Regions from separate parts of the Homo sapiens genome. Here region 1 is linked to region 2. The links come from fine-mapping of genetic effects on gene expression. A gene starts in region 2. The other region holds a variant in brackets. All regions are shown on one strand. Distances are from middle to middle. Region 1 overlaps BRD9 (bromodomain containing 9). Region 2 holds the start of LINC02982 (long intergenic non-protein coding RNA 2982).

What was found. PIP is the estimated chance that this variant, and not a neighbour inherited with it, causes the effect. A credible set is the group of variants that fine-mapping cannot tell apart.
Region 1: its variant is the best candidate, but not a certain one, in a credible set for the expression of LINC02982 in tibial nerve (GTEx, PIP 0.63).

The regions. Positions count from the first base shown.
Region 1 is chr5:870,402-874,401 of GRCh38, forward strand. It overlaps BRD9 (bromodomain containing 9), which reads right to left. Exons shown (of 16, transcript NM_023924.5): 13 at 1,125-1,163; 14 at 72-174. Among named protein-coding and RNA genes, the nearest start is that of BRD9, 20 kb to the right of the region's middle. The variant C/T (reference allele first, on the strand shown) is at 1,651.
Region 2 is chr5:994,697-999,221 of GRCh38, forward strand. LINC02982 (long intergenic non-protein coding RNA 2982) reads right to left here and starts at 2,644. Exons shown (of 2, transcript NR_104615.1): 1 at 2,575-2,644. LOC124900932 (a long non-coding RNA gene) reads right to left here. Exons shown (of 2, transcript XR_007058677.1): 2 at 2,948-4,525. RefSeq lists an enhancer at 77-577.

The DNA.
Region 1 (4,000 bases), 120 kb before region 2:
GGAGGCCGTGTGTTTTCTTCCTCTATCACACCTTCACCAGGTGCTGTGGGAAAGTGCCTGTTACAACTCACCCAGAGAGCTGAGCATGGAGATATCCACAGAAACGTCGGGATAGGACTTCATCGACATGAACTCCAGAACAGAGCTGCTGCTGTCTCCTAGGGTGTCCCCAACCTGTGGAGACAGACACACATCAAGAGCAATTCAAACATCAAACGAAAAACGAAATGTTACTTCACACTCGCTATTGAAATCACTCTAATTATTTGCTAAACGTGAACCCACCCCTCAGTAAGTGACAAGACCAAGCCCTGTTCACTGAGGCTGCTGTTCAAGGGACTGTCAGGTTGGAGCTCATGAATGGATATGCAAATCCATGTCAAAGAAAAACCTACTGAGACCAACAACGCAAACTAACAATCCTTTGTTAACTTTTTGGGGCTAAAGAAATTGGGGAGGGACATTATGCAACAGGAAGACACACAGAATTTTAGGGTCCAGGACTATTTCTCAGGCACTTCACAGAGCACACAACGTTCCCTTTCCTTTCCCAGCAAGGCGTGTCCTCAGGGCTAGACTACAGCCACCCTAACACATACTCTCTCATCAGCTCCCTGCAGCTCGGCCTCTGCCCTCAAACAGATGTTAAGGGGTCTCTCCAGGTTCCCAGGGACCCTGGACCAAAGCCCAAGCCCATGCCTGCTGACTGTCAGAGACACACACCTGCCAATCGGCAGGTGCAGCAGTCTGGGCTCACAGCACTGCCCTGCCAGCACTGGCCCCAGAGCCCACTGTGCTTGGGACAACACCTGCTACTCACCAAGCAGGTCCTGAGAAGGCCCATCCTGCCCAACCCTTGCAAGGGTGTCCCACAAGGACAGCACCCAGCGGGGCCAACTGCTCTGAAACTACCCATTTCTGGATTTGGAAGAATGTACTGCGGCTTCACACCACTCACCTCAAGTCATGAAAAGAGGAGGAGAAACACTATTGATCTTACTGATCAGAAACGGACTCCATTTCTAAACGCCGTCATACACACAGACCTCCCCACCTCAAAGGCTGGATACAACTTTCCCTGTGAGAATAATATTTGGCTTGCCCTTCCATGTTCAAAAACTTACCTTGGCTTCATCTGGAGGCTTCATGGGAACATTTCTTCTCTGAAAAGTAAATGAGGACAGAAACTAGTTTTTCCAGAGTGATTTCATAGAAACGGACAATTCGCTGACATTACACACACGTAAAAATGGCTTGTGCGCTTCTGCGAATTCTGCTCCCCAGTCACACCATCTTAATGGATTAAGGCTGGGGGTCCTCCAAACCTTCTTCATCACCAGTCACTGACCCAACCACGCCCAGCCCCCTCCTCAGCGCCAGGATTGTGTGCCGGGGACAGCGCTCCACAGGGCGAGATGGAGCGGACAGAGAGAGGACGCCGATGCTGTTTCGGCAGCCTTGGGTGGCTTAAAACAAAAGAAAAAAGATGTGCCTAGATCCTATGGGAAGCTTAGGATAAGAAGGGTCTCGTGGGTTCCACCTGGAATATGACCAGTTGCCTGAGACCAGCTCGAGTCCTGCAGGGGCAGGTGTGTGCAGGAGCAAAGGAGGCAGACACCTCCTGGCAGTGCCTGTGGCAGGTGGGCCTGC[C/T]GTGGGCGCAGGAGCGAAGGAGGCAGACACCTCCTGGCGGTGCCTGCAGCAGGTGGGCCGGGCCGTGCATTGTCTCCTTCCACAACTGTCGGCCTCCGTGGCACACCCGTCCTGTGCTCCGGTGGAGCGATGCTGTAGTATATGCACTCTATCATGTGTGATCTTTGTTCGAAATAATGTTTCTCAGATTCAATGACATCGATTTTCACAAGCTTTTAATTAGAAAATGAATACTGCTGTTTTGTTCGCATCTGTTTCCCCAAAAGCCTTCAGTCACTTTAGTCCTGAGCATCATTTACTGCGGGGGTGCACTCGGGGTCACTCAACTCCATATCCAAGTTCACTTTCCCGAAAGGAATCTAACTGGAACCCAGAGAGGAAACCACAGAGCCTTCCCATTTCCGGGCTGTGAGGGGGTCACTTTCCCTACCCCACAGCAATGCCTGATTCTAACGCTGTGTTGGGGGGGCCAGCTTCCTGCCTGGAAGGAGCCTGCAGGCCACGACACGGGAGGGTGACCAGAGCTCAGAGTCAGAACCACGAGCTGGTGGGGCAGGCTCTGCAGAGGGGGCTGCTCCTCAGAGCTGCAGAAATCTGCTTGGGGACTCCCGCCTGGCTGCAACCCTCTCTTCAGGGGCCTGCGAGCCCTCCAAGCATGGAAATCAAGGAAAATCTTGAGTTCCTTCAAGGGAAATTCCAGTTACTTAGATAACTCTGAGAAGTAAATCAGCGACTTGATAAGCAAGAAGGTAACAGTATCCTAAAACAACAGTCAAGGAAGGTGGAGACAGATGTTTGTTCCCTGTAGAAAGTAAAGACAACCTCCCAGCACTGTTCCCTGTAGAAAGAAAAGACAACATCCTACCACTCTGGGAGGCTGAGATGGATGCATCATTTGAGGTCAGGAGTTAAAGACCAGCCTGGCCAACATGGCGAAACTCCGCCTCTACTAAAAATACAAAAATTAGCCAGGTGTGGTGGCGCATGCCTGTAATCCCAGCTACTCGGGAGGCTGAGGCAGGAGAATCGCTAGAATCAGGGAGGCAGAGGTTGCAGTGAGCCACAATCACGCCACTGCACTCCAGCCTGGGTGACAGAGTGAGACTCTATGTCTCAAAAAGAAAAAAAAAGAAAGAAAGTAAAGATAACATCTTAATGTATATCCCTGAGTTGTCTTTCAGAAACCTGGACCCTCCACCTAGGACCTCCCCAACAAACTAATCTACTGGCATGAAGGGCTCAGATAAGGAGAAACTGAAGACTGAGCTCTGACCCCGTTCTTTGTTCTGAATTTCTTCCTGACGGGCCTGGAGGAAGCCACACCCACAAGCCTAAGCTAACATTCTTTTCTCTTCACCCCAAATTTTTAAACAAAGCTTCTCCTCCTTAACCAGCTGCAAATCAGAAAACCTTTGAATCCACCTATAACCTATAAGGCCCTGCTTGCAGATACCGCCCTTCTAGGCCAAGCCGACATGTAACCTCTGTGTCCTTATGCACGACTCTGCCTTTCAGTTCTGCTTTCCTGAGATCTACCCCCGCTTTACAAGCCTTGCCTGTAGCCAGTGGGGGAGGCCAGGATTTATACATGAGCCTCCTGGCCCACCTTGCTTGGCGCCCTGCAAATACACACGTCCTTTCTATGACAAAACCTCGGCATGGGTGTCTGGGTTTACTGCACCAGGCATGTGGACCCCAGTTCATCTGTAACAAGCACAGATGAAACCGTCAGGTCAAGGGACTGACCCCTCCTTGGGAGCCATGAGCCAAACGTTCTCAGAGCCTGGGAAGGACAGAGACTCATCCGAACTCCACCCACAGCAGAGACCACGCTGAAAAGACAGGGCTCCCCGAAGGGCCACTCCTTAGCATTAAGGCTACACGAACCCTAGAATAAGGCTGCCCTGGACCCACCCCAGACAAGCCTGGTAGGATCCGGCCATTATCCACAAGTAACAACTGCCAAAATGATCATCAGTATTCTCTGAAAGAGAGAAAGAACCCAGATCAGCCTTGCCCAGCAGACATAACGCGAGCACACGCCTCGTTCTAAATGTTTTTTTATCTTTTTTTTGAGACAGGGTCTTGCTCTATTGCCTAGAGTGCGGTGGTGCAATCGCACTGCAGCCTCGACCTCCCGGCCTCAAGTGATCCTCCCACCTTAGCCTCCTGTGGAGCTGATGACAGGTGCATGCCACCATACCCAGCTCTTAAAATTCTAGCTGCCACATTAAAATTACTCTTAACATTCAATTAACTAATGCATTTTACTTAGACAAATTTATTGAAGATGTTTTTATTCCAACATGTGGGCCATAAGAAATCGTTACTCATATTTTTACGTTTTTTG
Region 2 (4,525 bases):
CTCAGCCAGCTGGGAGCCCACAGTGTCCATGCCCAGGCCCCATGCAGTGTTCAGAGTCCATGCAGAGTGCTGCCCATTGGGTGGGCCTGAGGCTCCAGGAAACAGACATGACAGCCCATGGGCAGGTGGCCTTCTGGTCAACAGCCATGAGGAGGCCTCAAGAGAAAGCTGCCTGGCAACCTCTTTCATCTGGGACAACTGGTCTGGCCCAACTGAGAAACAGCCTGGACTTCAGGCTGCCTCCTGCCAGTGGCTCCGTGGGTACCAGAGGCCAGGGGTGCTCCATCCTTTTTCCTGGGAGGGGTGAGTTGGGCCAGCCAGCCTCACTGTGGCCGCCTGGTGGGGCTGCAGGCCTGCCCCTTCCACCTCCCCACAGCCTTCTGGAGGGAAACACTAAGAAGAAGGCCGCTTCCTACACCATGTCCCACTGGCCTGGGGGACTTCAAACCCGGAAGCTAGTGTGGCCACAATCTCCTTTTGCAGCCCAAGAGTTGGAGACTGGTTTCTAAGGAGACAGTCAGTGCCTGGGTTGGTGGCAGGTGGGCTGTCTGCAGGAGGAAACCTCAGTGGGCCTGGGCCTGCCTGCAGGAGGGCATTGTTGGGAAGGCTACGGAAGACTCTCAGAGCCTACATCTCCATTCAGGGGCAACTCCATCCACCCTCATCGCCCCCTCTCCACCTGGCTGTCCTTACCTCCAGCCGGACACCAAGCCAGCTCTGCTGCAGGTGCAAAGGGGCCACCTGCCCCAGCCCAGCTTCCACATGTGAATGTCCTGTGCTCTAGACAGCCAGGACCTGCTGCCACCTGCTTGCTGGGGCGGTGAGCACCCTCAGGCATACCTGTTCATCACCCACAGATGCCCAGCCCTGTGCTTACCCCACAGCACATGCACACAATGCCCCCTGGATGCCACAAATCGTTTCTAGCAGCAAATGAGTCAGAAGGGAATGGACCCAAAGTCTAGACCCCACTCCACCCCCATCCTGCTGAGGTTGTGAGCTCCAGGGGAGCAGAGGCAGCTAAGGACACGGGCCATGGCTGGTCCCTGGCAACCTTGTAGCACCACCTGGTGACCCAGCAGTGAGCAGGGTGCTTGAAACACCACTGGGCAGGTATCACTCACACCTACACCGTGGAGCAGCCCATTCCAATGGCAAAGATTCCCGATTACACTATTAAATAAGAAAAGAATGTACTTTTTTTCTTTTACTACATAGAGATGTTAAGCTTCTATAAATCAAAAAACAGGGCCAGGCATGGTGGCTCATGCCTGTAATCCCAGCATGTTGGGAGGCCAAGGTGGGTGGATCACCTGAGGTCGAGAGTTCAAGACCAGGCTGGCCAACATGGTGAAACCCTATCTCTACTCAAAACACAAAAAATTAGCCGGGCGTGGTGGCATGTGCCTGTAGTCCCAGCTGCTTGGGAGGCTGAGAGAGGAGAATGGCTTGAACTCAGGAGGCAGAGGTTGCAGTGAGCCGAGACTGCGCCACTGCACTCCAGCCTGCACAACAGAGCGAGACTCCCATCACACACACACACAAAAAAAATCAAAAACCAGATAAATGTAATAGCAAACTGGGTGAATGTTTGCAGCAAAATTACAGAGAAAACATATCCTTCACAGAGGAAAAGCTCTTACTAATCAAGAAAACAACACCATAATGGAAAGAGAAATATAACTGTAGACATTCAACGTAGATGTCAACCTTGCCCATGACCAAGGAAACAAACACTGAAACCATCATGAGACTTTGTTTTTCAGTTTGCTACAGTTTGGAAAGGAAACGAGCTTGCCCCTGTGTGGCTGGTGGGCATGTGGGCATGTGGGCTGGCAACAGCTTTCTGAGCGGCTGCACCTCTAAGAACAAAAGCAGTTCCATCCTCTTCCAGGGAAGAGGAATGTTTCAGGAATCACTTAGAAACATAAACAGGAATTTGTGAAGGAGGCCACCCAATACAATGTTACCTGCAATGGCAAACTAAAAGCAATGTAGCTGCTTGATGGGAAGAAATGGTGAAACCCATGTCCCTACATTTGTACCTTCAAGGACCAGGCAGAAGGGTAAAGTGCACTTTTAAAGAATATTTGAACATTGAGAAATAAAAATACAATCCCAAGACCTCCAACTGACTAAATGAACCCCTTCTTGGCCAAGGGGACTCCAGAGAAACCTTAAACACTGGGTTCCAAGCCATGAAGGGATGAAATGCCAGACAGACCTCATTATGCCCCCTCCCTCACTAACCGCTGCCATTGAGTTTCTTTCCTAAGGGTAAACAGAAAGCCCTTTTGAAAGATTTGCCAGACTCCCCACCCCTCGTGTAGTTTTGACACAACAACCAGCCAGCATTCCTTCCTGATAACAGATCCTGACTGTGGACTGGTTCTAGCTGGTGTAGAGGCTGCACACAGGATGCCTCTGTGTCCTTCATTTCACCTTTTGACCTACAGAGCCTCATTTCAATGCACTTAAATGTGAAGTCTCCACCCCAAAGTGAACACAGGACACATGTAACACACATGTGAGCTCACTGTGCATGCGTGCCCCTCACCCTTGTAGAGTACTCACAGTGCCTCCTGTAGCCTCTCAGCCACCACGGTCAGCACATTCCTGTCTCATCCTCCCCACCCTCAAAGTGCCTGCTTCCGGTTTAGGGTGGAGGCCACACCTCCCAGCCTGTGGATGGTTACTTGCAGGCTGCAACTCTTTAGAGAAATAAAGCTCTCCCTTCCATGTTTATGAATCTCATGAATCTTCAGTTGACAACATATAAAGAAATGAGCATGAAATGATTTTCAGTAAAATAAGTAGGAAACAAAACTGCAGATAATTAGGTGATTATCTTGGGAGATGGGAATCTGTGGGGGGGGGAGGGAATTTTTATTTTTCTCTTCACATTTTTCCACATTTTTCTAATTTTTTTACAATGATCATACAGCACTTTCATAACAAAAAATAATAAACATTTTATTTCACAAAACTATAACCTGGAAAAAGTGATAAATGTCTATAAGTGAATATTCCATAGCGGTAAGAATGGATGAGGCATTTTTATCCACAAGGCAGATCTTCAGAACATGAGGCACTGCTACTGGTACTGGGCATGGCTTTGGCTGCTCTCCCAGTGGGGGTCTGAGGTGGCCCTGGGCCATCTGCCCTCACCTGGCTCTGGGGCAACAGGGGCAGGGGTGGGAGAGGCATCAGGTCTGGGAAAAGGCACAGTCCACGGGCTCCACTGGATCAAGGCAGTGCCCTCCACTCCATCGGGCCTGAGTGGAGATGGCCTCACTGGCTTAGCTCTGCCCAAGCAAATCCACCCTCGTGTTGCCTCCAAGGCATCCGCCAGGTCCTCACCTCACCCCCTGCCCCAATTACTTATGTTCTTCTTTTTATCAGAAAAACATTCGATGTGGCCATATTTTCAATAATAGCTTGAGTCAGTCTCACTTGGTTGTGATAACTCAGAAGACTGGTGATCAGAGAGAAAGAGGAAAAGGGGGACGGGGGAGAAGGGGAAGAGTGAGGGACGGGGGAGGGAGGGAAGAGGGAGGGAGGGAGAGAAGAGCAGGACGGTGGGAGGAGGTTTCTTGGCATGCTTCCTGCTGGTTCAGACCCAGTCCAAGTTTCCTGAACCCATGTTCTGGAATGTCTGGCGCTGCCACAAGATGAGGAGGAGACCCAGCCACAGGCGTGAGGACATGGGTGCATCCTCCTCATGGCCGACCCGAGTTCCCACCAGGCACAGGACTTCGTTAACAGAAGCAGCTTCTCAGGCAAATCACACAGCACCCCCAGCCCCTGCTGAAGTGCCTCCTCCTCTCCAGCTCACCCAAGGAGCCGGAGCTTTGGCTGCACTGGTGCTGGGGGCGGCTTCACCCCGTGAGGGTGCCACTCCATGGGCCACTGGGAGGTTGTTGTGCAGTCCTGGCCAGTTTACAGAACAGAGATCCAAACTTTCACCTAATATATAAGACAGGAACCATTTTCATTTGACCAGAGAGGGCCTCAGGGGGATCCTGGCCCTCAGCTCCCAGGAAGAGGTCCTCTCCCCGCAGCATCCATGGGAAGTGCCTTCAGTTGCTCCAGTTCTTCACCCCTCTCTGTATCTGCCCTATGTCTGCAGCTTGGCAGGGTGTTTGCTGCTTACATTTTGAGACTCTCGGAAACAAACTGTGCCTTCTAAACACACAGTGGAATCTGACACCAATGATGCAGTCCAGAATGCTTTCTTCCCCTGGTGACAAACTTTCCGAGTATCTTACATTAGTTTAGTGGGGCCTTCCAGCAGCTGTCCCAACTCAGAGACAGACCTGCAGGCCCATGGGCCAAGACAGAGCCCTTCCCCACCAACCTTGACCTTGGATGAAAAGCATCATCCCTGTTTGCTGGAAGTGTGTAGTAGGATGACGGATGTGTTGGCAGAGCCAGGCCCATGCTGTCCAGGGAGGCATCAATGCTTTGCGGTGTCCAGACAGTTTACAAGGCCCAAGAATGCTGCTCCCTTGGTGAGGCAACCACC